Homo sapiens: one gene and its partners. The protein of the gene in region 2 purifies or fractionates together with the protein of the main gene of each other region. This does not show direct contact. Each region holds a gene or a part of one and is shown on either strand. Other genes may lie near its edges.

What was found.
Region 1: the proteins of TRDN (region 2) and VTI1B purify together in Homo sapiens (co-immunoprecipitation; 3 studies listed by BioGRID and IntAct, with this or other methods). This does not show direct contact.
Region 3: the proteins of TRDN (region 2) and LMAN2L purify together in Homo sapiens (co-immunoprecipitation; 3 studies listed by BioGRID and IntAct, with this or other methods). This does not show direct contact.

The regions. Positions count from the first base shown.
Region 1 is NC_000014.9:67,661,011-67,664,665, forward strand, and holds part of VTI1B (vesicle transport through interaction with t-SNAREs homolog 1B), read right to left. Parts: intron 1,526-3,655; coding exon 1,467-1,525; intron 1-1,466. UniProt on the Homo sapiens protein: V-SNARE that mediates vesicle transport pathways through interactions with t-SNAREs on the target membrane. These interactions are proposed to mediate aspects of the specificity of vesicle trafficking and to promote fusion of the lipid bilayers.
Region 2 is NC_000006.12:123,546,434-123,550,088, forward strand, and holds part of TRDN (triadin), read right to left. Parts: intron 2,180-3,655; coding exon 2,021-2,179; intron 940-2,020; coding exon 907-939; intron 1-906. UniProt on the Homo sapiens protein: Contributes to the regulation of lumenal Ca2+ release via the sarcoplasmic reticulum calcium release channels RYR1 and RYR2, a key step in triggering skeletal and heart muscle contraction.
Region 3 is NC_000002.12:96,733,561-96,737,215, reverse strand, and holds part of LMAN2L (VIP36-like protein isoform 2 precursor), read left to right. Parts: exon of another isoform or gene 1-79; intron 80-2,689; coding exon 2,690-2,807; intron 2,808-3,614; coding exon 3,615-3,655. UniProt on the Homo sapiens protein: May be involved in the regulation of export from the endoplasmic reticulum of a subset of glycoproteins. May function as a regulator of ERGIC-53.

The DNA of each region.
Region 1 (3,655 bases), on a different chromosome or scaffold from region 2:
AGAGAAAAGGATGCAGATGTGCTTCCTTCTCAGAACTTCATTGGGATAAGTGGGAAATTGAAACACTGATCTTCAACAAGCAAGAAGGAAGTTCGCTGGCCAAAAGAGAATTTTTTCTCCATCTGCTCTCGGGTAGCAAATACAGGGCCAACTATTTCTGCGGAGTACTAGCAGCGACCAGAATTTTGGCCCCAATCTTAATGAGTTTGCTGAAGCTAGAGTATGATGAGATGGAGTCAAAGGACTCTTGCTTCTATAGGGCTAGAGCAAAAAAAAAAAAAAAAAAAAAGTTTTTTTTTTTTAAAGAAAAGCCACAGGTGAAGAGAAGCAGTTGTTAAACTGTTCAGTAAACGGAACCAACTTCTGACAAACTTTGGGTACCAACTGAGACTCATGCATGTCTTGCCTGAGGTACCAACTCCAGCTCCTATGTTGTCTCTTAAGACAGAAAGGGACATGGTTAGAATTACCTCTAAACTACATTTTCTGTGACAGTAGGTTTAACAAAGAACAGTAACCTTTTTTTTTTTTTTTTTTTTTTGAGGCAGGTCTCACTCTGTCACCCAGACTGGAGTGCAGTGGTGCAACTGTGGCTAACCACATGCTTGACCTCCCAGGCTGAAGTGATCTCCCACCTCAGCCTCCTGAGTAGCTGGGTCCAGAGGCATGCACCACCAAACCTCGGTAATTTTTTTTTGTTTGGTAGAGATGGGGGGTCTCCCTATGTCGCCCAGGCTGGTCTTGAACTTCTGGCCTCAAGTGATCCTCCCACCTTGGCATCTCAAAGTGTTGGGATTGCAAGCGTGAGCCACCGCACTGACCAGTAACCTATCTTAATGGCCAGCTCTTAAAAACAGATTTTAGGCCAGGCACGGTGGCTCATGCCTTGTAATCCCTGTACTTTGGGAGGCCGAGGCGGGCAGATCATGAGGTCAGGAGATCGAGACCATCCTGGCTAACACGGTGAAACCCCATCTCTACTGAAAATACAAAAAAACAGCCAGGTGTGGTGGCGCCCACCTGTATTCCCAGCTACTTGGGAGGCTGAGGCAGGAGAATGGTGTGAACCCGGGAGGTGGAGCTTGCAGTGAGCCGAGACTGTGCCACTGCACTCCAGCTTGGGCAACAGAGCGAGACTCTGTCTCAAAACAAACAACAACAACAACAACAAAAAAAAAAACAACAGATTTTAAAAGACTGCTTGGGTAAAAGTATGAGAATGCCCTTACTACTCACATCAGCAATATATTACCAAAGAGTCACATTTCAGGAGCATCTTCAGGCTTCACCCATTTGTTTGCCAAACCCCCTCAACAACCATCCCCATCAACTGGCTTCATTTAGTAAGAAATAGTCAAAATCAAGATCAATGGACAGGAACAGTTAATTTGTGATCAGCTCATAGCATTACTTCTGGAAAAGACCAACACCAGGTAGAAGAAACAAAATTTGTTCCTTGTTCTCACCGTTTCATTTGCTTCCTGTTGCTTTTCATCAAAATCCCTGATCAATTTCTTCTTTTCTTCTAGAAAAGATAGATAAGTTTCAAATGCTTATTACTGTTTCCACACATTTGTAAAGGCCATTCCCTCTGCTTCGAATAAGCTTCCTATGGCAGGGCCTGGTGGCTCATGCCTGTAATCCCAGCACTTTGGGAGGCCAAGGCAGGTGGATCACAAGGTCAGGAGTTCAAGACCACCCTGGCCAACCTGGTGAAACCCCATCTCTACTAACGATACAAAAATTAGCCGGGCGTGGTGGCAGGCACCTGTAATCTCAGCTACTTGGGAGGCAGAGGTAGAGAAATGCTTGAACCCAGGAGGTGGAAGTGGCAATGAGCCGAGATTGCGCCATTGCACTCCAGCCTGGGCAATAGAGCAAGACTCTGTCTCAAAAAAAAAAAAAAAAAAAGAATGTTTACCAATAGTGACTCTCTGAAACCCCTCACCACTCCCACAGTGAACCACTTCTATGTTAACTCGTACACTACTTTTCTGCAAAATAAAAATTCCACCTACTCGGCTTGCTGAGAGGCTGTCTGGTGTGGTGCTTGTTTTTCTCTGGGTGTGGCACCGGCAATGACTTGAACGATGAGAACGTTATTCATTCCCCTTTCAGCCTTTCCCATTCTGTCCCTTTGGTTGAGTGTATCTTTAATACCTAAAAATTACTAATCTCCCCTTTGAACAAAAATAGAACAGGCTTCAGCTTCAAAACAAACATCTAACTAAAACAGTATTGTCTTAATTGTATTTTCTGATAGTTTATACTACAGGTTTTCCATCTAAAATATGATAGCAAGTTTCATTTTTAAATAACATTGTTTTAAATAAATGTATTTTACATGAAATAAGTTGACATAAAGAAAATGTAAGTGACAAGGCTGGGCACGGTGACTCACGCCTGTAATCCCAGCAATTTGGGAGGCCGAGGCGGGCGGATCATGAGGTCAGGAGATCGAGACCATCCTGCCTAACACGGTGAAACCCCATCTCTACTAAAAAATACAAAAAATTAGCCTGGTGTGGTGGTGGGCGCCTGTATTCCCAGCTACTCAGGAGGCTGAGGCAGGAGAATGGTGTGAACCCAGGAGGCGGAGCTTGCAGTGAGCCAAGATTGTGCCACTGCACTCCAGCCTGGGCGACAGAGGGAGACTCCATTTCAAAATAAATAAATAAATAAATAAAATGTAAGTGACAGTAATAATGATACTTGCGGATGGCAAAAATTATGAAGGTGGTACCAGAATGCTGTCACCTGGTAAACATTTGTATGGGGGAAAGGCATACAAGCACCTTTTCTGGTTAGTCAGCGGGGTGAGGTTCTGGTGCCAGGTTCGGGCCTGCCTCAGCATGTAAACTTAGATAATTTCCTTCATTTCTTTGGGACCTCACATTCTCCTTCATTGACTACAAAATGAGGAAGTAGGTCATTCCCTTATATCTAACAAGCAAAAATTAGCTCCTTTTAAGAGGAGCTTGATTTTTTAAAAAAATTTATACATCCAAATGACTGTTCTCCCTGGAAATCTACACATAATCTACTTATCACCATAAAGTTACCATCATTTACAATGTTTGTTTGTTTGTTTCAAGACAGAGTCTCACTGGTCACCTAGGCTGGCAAAATACATGTAATATAAAATTTACCATTTTGACCATTTGTGAGGGTATAGCTTAGTGGCTAGGTACATTCACACCGTTGTGGAGCCATCACCACTAACTGTTCTCCAGAACTTGTTTATCCTCTCAAACTGAAATTCCGTACCCATCAAATACCTCCCCATTCTATGAATTTCACTACTCCAGGTACACCATTAAGTGGAATCATACAATATTTGTCCTTTGTGTTTAGCTTATTTCACTTAGCACAAAGTCAAGGTTCATCTATGCTGTTGCACGTATGGGGATATGGCCTTTTAAAGCTATGTATTTTTCAATGTGACTCCTAAACACAAGCCAGCAGCACTTCCACCAACTAAAGAGCAATTTTTTTTTTTTTCTTGAGACAGAGTCTTGCTCTGTCTCCCAGGCTGGAGTGCAGTGGCTCGGTCTCGGTTCACTGCAACCTCCACCTCCCAGGTTCAAGCGATTCTCTTGCCTCAGCCTCCCGAGCAGCTGGGGTTACAGGCACCCACCACCATGCCCGGCTAATT
Region 2 (3,655 bases):
TTGGATCCCATTGTTTGAATCCACAGTAGGTATTAGGAGAGAGCAACAGAAGCCAGGGTTATCTTCCTGGGTAAACCCTCAACAGCCTGCCCATGTGTAGCAGTAACTAAAACACTGCAATTGTTTTAAGTCTGGCTTGAATGTTGGCTGTTTTCTCACAACAAATGTACCTCAAGATGGTACTACCTGCTCCCCAGTGCCCCTTCCAGATGCAGTTCCTACCCCTTCCTGTCAAAATCTCTGTCTTCTGAAATTCCTGCCCCATTGCTGTCCTCCTTTGTCCTAGGTTTATCGTTCTTATCATTCAGGTTGTGACCACTTCACTCAGTCACCTTATCTATTCCTGCAAGTAATTCCTCTACAGCACATCCAGGCACATCCAGGTAACTCCACTCCATGACAGTGACACATCACACATACCAACTGGATATGCCTTTGCCTCCTAGGCTGTTATGTCCCTCACCGTCTTGTTGTCCTGGCCCATAGTCATCACCTAACATGCAAAATAATGATGGCAAAAAAAATAAAAGGAAAAGAATAAGAATAAACATTTAAAATCAATAAATCTGACCATGGTGAGAATAAATCATGGGTGTCATTTTCTGGGCCATTTCTAAGGCTACAGAATTCTCCCCTCATTCCTCAAATTCCAGCTCATATTGGTCTGTGTATAAATGAATCCATACAAATCTACTGAATAAGGCATTTAAAAAATAATCAACAGAAAAGTAGTGAGATCACCTTCATTGGAAAAGAAATTGAGTATTTTTTTTCTGACTATAAATCTTGACCTAATTATTAAACAAAACCTTTATATTAAAATAAGTAAAATATATTTGAACCATGCTGAAAACCAATATTACCATAAGAGAAAAATAATTATTATCAAAGGTGAAAACAACTAACCTTTTTTTCTCAAGGGAGGCTCATCTATTTCTCCTAGACCAAGATTAAAAGAAAAACAAAGTTAGAAAATATTTTAGCATAGAATAATATGACATCATTATTTTCCCCTTTTGTTTATTTAAAAAAATCTATTAGTTTTAACAATCATAGTCTTTACATTACTTTGCTTCCCAAATTCCAGTTTTTAAGTATAAAGTTTGTTTATATACATTTATATAAGATTGTTTCATTTTTATGAATTCAATAAAATTGTGGCAGTGATCCAAATTATACATTATAGGTTATATATCATATTAATTTCAACTCTCTATTGTTCATGTTGAACTCTTACTGGGGCCAAAACAAATATAATTTCAGGAAAAGTTATAAAAATACTCTAATAATAAAAGCTTTCCTGGTAGTCAAGGCTGAATACATGATTTCTGATGACTAAGACTGACCCTAAAAAGTGTTATCTAATAGATGGAATCACAGTGCTTTGTTCTTTTCATACTCATTCAATGGCAGCTTTTATGTGGTTTGAGATGGCTATTTCCTTTTATTCATTAATATATATGAGAGAGCACATAGGTTAGTTGCATAATTGTTAGGACATTTAGAATGTGTCCTTCTATTCTACACCACCATTTGGTCCAATAAATTTACTCTTTTGATTGTACTTTTAGTAAGATTGCTTTCTGCTATTTGACTATAAATATGACATATGTGTATAAAACACTTATATGTATTTTTAGTTTTACTGTTTTTATTTTAATCTTCCTAGAGATAAACTTGAAAAATAACTATTTTTTCCAAAGAAGCATATAAATGTGAGTTTGTATTGTGGTTTTATAGCAGAGCATAATGAGACTCCCTTTGCTGTAATGCTACATTAATATTAACATTTAATTTTGACATCTTTGCCATAATGGTAGATAAGCTATAAGATGAAAATTAAATAAAGAACAATTTACTGTGTTTGGCAGCCTGTTGATATGCTTTTAGCAGTCAGAAGTGTATTCATTTTGGTTTAGCTTGACCCAAGTGCTCATTTGAATTTAAACTGAGGCAAGCCACTATAATACATATTTAATGTTGCTCCTAGCAGTTAGATATATCTCTATGTTCTTTGTACCTTTATCAGTATCTTCGTCACCATCATCATCTTCTTCATCTTCAGATGAGATGATGTCAGATAACAAAGAAAAGAAGCCATAGATCCAGTCCGTGGTTTCCTCCATAGCATCACGTACCAGTTTTAAAGGATCTGAGCCAATCTTGGCAATAGAGCTTGCTAAAAGTAATTAAAAAAAAAAAAAAAGAAAAAGTTTGTGATCATTTCCAAATAACTTAAGAAAAGCTGTTTTTACTGATTTGTTGTTTTGACAAAAAGAATATGTCAATTTCAACATTCTAAATATCTCCTGGCTACAATTTTTTGCGCAGAAATAGAAACTTCATCTTGCTATAATATGCATGCATGCCAAGAAAGAAAATGCCCTTGGGAAGTTTATAATCCAAATAAGAGTTAGCACTGGAAAAAAAATTAGGAATGAATTAAAATAATGTGTATTTATGTTACCCAGAGTGCAAATAAACCCTATGTTATGGATGTTCAGGAATGGAAGAAATAATTTCAGCACATATTGTATGGGACAGCATTATAGAAAAGATGACTCTGTAAGTTTTCAGACAAATAACAAGTTCTGCAAGTTGACTAAGGTAGTTGTGGCTAAATTAAGACTGATAGGCCCATTTATTCTAATTTGTGATACCACAGGAAGAATCTGGAATAGTCAAGTTAGTGATCATATCAAGCTCTAGTTGGAATAGGTTGGATTTATCTTAGTCATCCCTGTACATGAAATAAAAAAGTATTTGAACTGCTAGTAACTTCAATGGATAGAATCTATAAGTCTTCCCTTTTCTATGTCCTAGGAGATATAAAATGTTTGCTAAATGAAAGATTGAATCATAAAAAAATGCAAACAAATATATTAGGGATTTCCAAAATTTTATTCTTCCAATCATATGAAAACTGCTCTGAAGAGGCAAGCATAGCCTTTAGGATGTGATTACAGAGGTGATCTATCTAGAAATATGGTATAAATTGCATCTGATTTTTTATCAAGCTGTAATTAAATTTTAGAGCTGTGTTTTCCTTAATTTTAAAAACTATTTTAGCTTTTCAGAGATTTTTCTCTCTTTGATATATTTAAGAGATGAGAATTATATCAATGTATTATACTACCTAAAGGTTAAGTACATCTAATTAGGCTTTTACTGTGACTAACATAGTAAGTCATTGGAAGATTTGAGCAGAAAGATGAAGTGATTTGACTTCCTTTACTGTGTTGAAGTTTGAAAGGGTGCCAGGCTGGGAACAGGGAGATGAGTATGAAGCCAACTGAAATCATCCAAGAGAAAGATGATCATGATTTCTATCAGGGTGGTAACAGTGTGTGTGGTGAGATGCAATCAGATTCTGAATGTATTTCAATGACAGAATTAATAGTAGAAGCTTCCAGTGTGGCTGTGATGTGAGAGAAAGACAGAATTCCAGGATAACTTCTAAGTTTTTGGTGTGAGAAACTAGAATGAAGGAAGGAAATGCTCTGAGCTGGGGGAGGACTGGAGAGAAACAAGATTCTTGCTGGGTGTGGGTGGGGTTGGGAGTAGAAAAGTAGCTGAGTTTTAGACTTTCAAAATTTGGGTTGCCTATTAGATACTTACATCAAGATGTAGACATTTGTGTAATGCAACATGATTT
Region 3 (3,655 bases), on a different chromosome or scaffold from region 2:
GCATTGTCTTCCTTGAGGTATGGCGACAAGAAGTGAATGCAGTATTCCTGGTGTGGCTGCACTGTGATTTTGTACAAGTGTAAGATGATGCTTTCTTTTCTGTTTCCAGGGCTTTCTAAATCTTTTACGACCAGTTTACTTTTGGGCATGACTCTGGCATCCTTTGATACTTTCTCTGGAATTCTCTTAAACTAAGAACTTACTTTTTTACGTGGCTTTTCTCATTAGTTGTAGATAAGCGAATCTCAGAAAAGAGAACGATTTCTTTTCCCTGTTCAGGAGGGCAAGAGAAATTTCTACATTAGCTATCTGCACAAACTGGCCCCTTAACCTAGATCATAGTGCCGAGCTCATTTTTGGACAGAGTACAGAGCATTGTGTTTTCGTAGCAGAGATAAAGGACAGTTGAAAGACTGGGATTCTCGGTCCAGCTCTGTCACAGTCCTCCTGTGAGCCCTAGGCAGATTATTTAACTTCTTAGTTCTGTTTCTCTATCTGATAAATGAGCTTCAGAATACCTGTTTTACTTGCCCACTGGGGTTGTCGTGAGAATAAAATAGGACAATAGACATGAAAAGACTGTGGCAAGTTAAAATGGTTATAGAAATATGTGTTATGTTATTACACTTCTACAGGTTTGTTGATGGGGCTCTTGTGGGTTACCGGATGATTATGTTCAAGGCTTGATACTCTGCTGCTGTCTTGCTGGCTGTCTGTCTCTACATAACTTGTAGCAGCAGTTCTAGTATAGCCTCTAGTTCTTCCCTTTTTCGACTTCTGATACCTGTATTCGCTGTTATCTGGCTATCACCATGACTATGGGCTTGTTTCTGAGTTATTTGAATAGGATGCATTTGTTTCAGCAGTGGTTCTCAAATTTGGCTATCCATTGGAATCAATGCCTGGGTCTCATCCCCAGAGATTCTGATCTAATTGGAATAGGGTGCAGCTTGGCCATTGGGATTTTTTAAAACTCCGTAGGTGAATCCAGTGTGTGGCAGAATTTCAGAACCACAATTAGACATGGTCCTGAGCAAAACAGTATAGCATTGTGCTGTAGGAGGCCAGGAATCAGTGACAGACACCTCTTGGCTCACTGGGAACTTCTGTGACTCTGCCCTCTTCCCAGGGGCATAATACCTACCTCCTGGCAGCTTCCTGCCCCACTGAATTTCACTCTTTCTCTGAAAGCTATTTTTTTGAAACAGGGTCTCATCACTCTGTCGCCTAGGCTGGAGTGCAGTGGCACTATCACAGCTCACTGCAGCCTGGACCTCCTGGGCTCAAATGATCCTCCACCAAAGCCTCTCAAAATGCTTTGATTACTGGCGTGAACTACTGTGCCTGGCCTTTCTCTGAAATCTTTTTTTTTTTTTTTGAGATGGAGTCTCGCTCTGTCGCCCAGGCTGGAGTGTAGTGGCATGATCTCAGCTCACTGCAAGCTCTGCCTCCTGGGTTCACGCCATTCTCCTGCCTCAGCCTCCTGAGTAGCTAGGACTCCAGGCGCCCACCACCACACCGGCTAATTTTTTGTATTTTTTAGTAGAGACGGGGTTTCACCGTGTTAGCCAGGATGGTCTCGATCTCCTGACCTTGTGATCTGCCCACCTCAGCCTCCCAAAGTGCTGGGATTACAGGCGTGAGCCACCGCGCTGGGCCGTTTCTCTGAAATCGTAATGAAACAGCAGAGAGATAAGAATCCAGAGTGACAAGACAGAGACTGGCTCAATAGAGTAGGAGATTTCAGGCCCCTTGCTCAATGCAGGAGTACCCAATCCCCTTTCATTTTGACTGTGTACTTCTAATATGAACACTGTTGGAAAATATCCCAGAAATAAAGAATGAAAACTGAAAATGATCTAGCAATAGTTGCCCAGAACAGTCTATTTGGAGAGCCTTTGGCTGAACCCAGCTGGTCTGTCTGTTCTTCCTTCACTTCTTTCTTCACAGTAGACTTTTAACCAGAAGCTTCCCTAAATCAACTACCCACTCTGGTTTTTTCTTGAAACCGTTCAACTATTTAAAACACTTAACCATCCACTTGCATCCATCTTCAAGTGCATTTAAGCTTCTTGGCCATGGACGGGAGGGTTTGGGGACTGTAACTTGCTCTTCTTGTGAGAATTCTGGCTTACCCCTCAGCTTGGCAGAGGGCCAGGTCTAGCTAATTAGAGTTGTTTGTAGTATCTGCTAATTATTCCTGGAAACGTTTGCATAACAGCTTAGCTTTTCTTTTTCTACTGTAATAAATTAGGCTTTGACCTTTCTTTAAATCCAGCTTTTCAGAGTCTTTCTGTCTGAGGGGTGATCTTGAGTTGTAAATGAGTATGAATTCAGCCATCTGTACTCTAAAAGCCGAGCTACTTTGCTGGGTGGGTGTAGGATCACAGGAGTGGAGTTTGGTACACTCTTGTCTTTTCCAACTTTGGAGTTCTGTCCTGTTTCTGTTGGGAAATGTTGAAGATAATCGGGAGGTTTATTCATTTTCATATTAAATCTCTAAACAGTTGAATGGTTCAATCCGTTTAATTTTATGACATGAACACATAGCAAGTCTTAGATTTAAGTTTTAACCCTTAGTCTAGTGTTACCTGCATTTGTGTTTTCCAAGTCTGTTGATTGCTGATGTGGGCTTGAGGGGTTTTGCATTTCATGCTCCTCATTGATTCTAATGTCTTTCTCACTTTAGCCATGTTTCCTGAGAGACTGGGAGTTGCAGGTGCACTTCAAAATCCATGGACAAGGAAAGAAGAATCTGCATGGGGATGGCTTGGCAATCTGGTACACAAAGGATCGGATGCAGCCAGGTATTGGGAGCCTGTGTTACTCTTGTGTGGGTGTGACAGCCTGATTTTTCATGTGCCCTCTTTTTGAAAAGGTTCCTTCCCCACAGTGCCAGCTGTTTTCCCTCTCCCTTAATGTATGTGGATGAACACTGGCCCTTCTAGTCTCTAGAACGGGTCTGAGTCCTCATAAGCAGCTGAATTTGACTCATCCTGAGGCAGTTGCTTGCTTGTTACTTCTTTCTGAGTTTCCTTGTGAAACTACCTGGCCTGTTGGCTGGATGAAAGCACTGGCTCTCCTGAACGCTGACGATTGGGTGAGCTGATTTCTTCTGAACATTTACAGTGAATGATCTCAGCACTGCTGAGTCAAGAGAAGAGTTATCTATTTTCCTTGTGTTAGAGCTATTATTGCTCCATGTAGATGGCAGGCTCAACCTGATTTGACCTGATCTCTTTTGCAACAAGAAGGAGAACTAGGGAATTCAGTTCTCTCTTGGGGGCATAGTCTTTACCAATTGTTTGTAAAGCAGAATTCTGTAGGGGCACCTTAGCAACCAGTTTGGATCAGGAAGCTGCCTGAGTGCTAAATAAGGTTGCAGTGGCCTTCTCTCTTTCCCTTGCCTCCAACAACAAACAATTACAGATATTTACTGGGCACTTGTTACAGGCCATGCACTTTGCTGGGTACTTTTAAACATGTGTTTTCTCATCTTGAGAGAGGCTTGGGAGTCATTTGAATTTTACTTTTTCCTCCATCATAGTGATATATTATTCCTTTATCAACTCTTAGCTTTATTTCATTGTTCATCATCTGTTCTCTCTCTCTAGGGCCTGTGTTTGGAAACATGGACAAATTTGTGGGGCTGGGA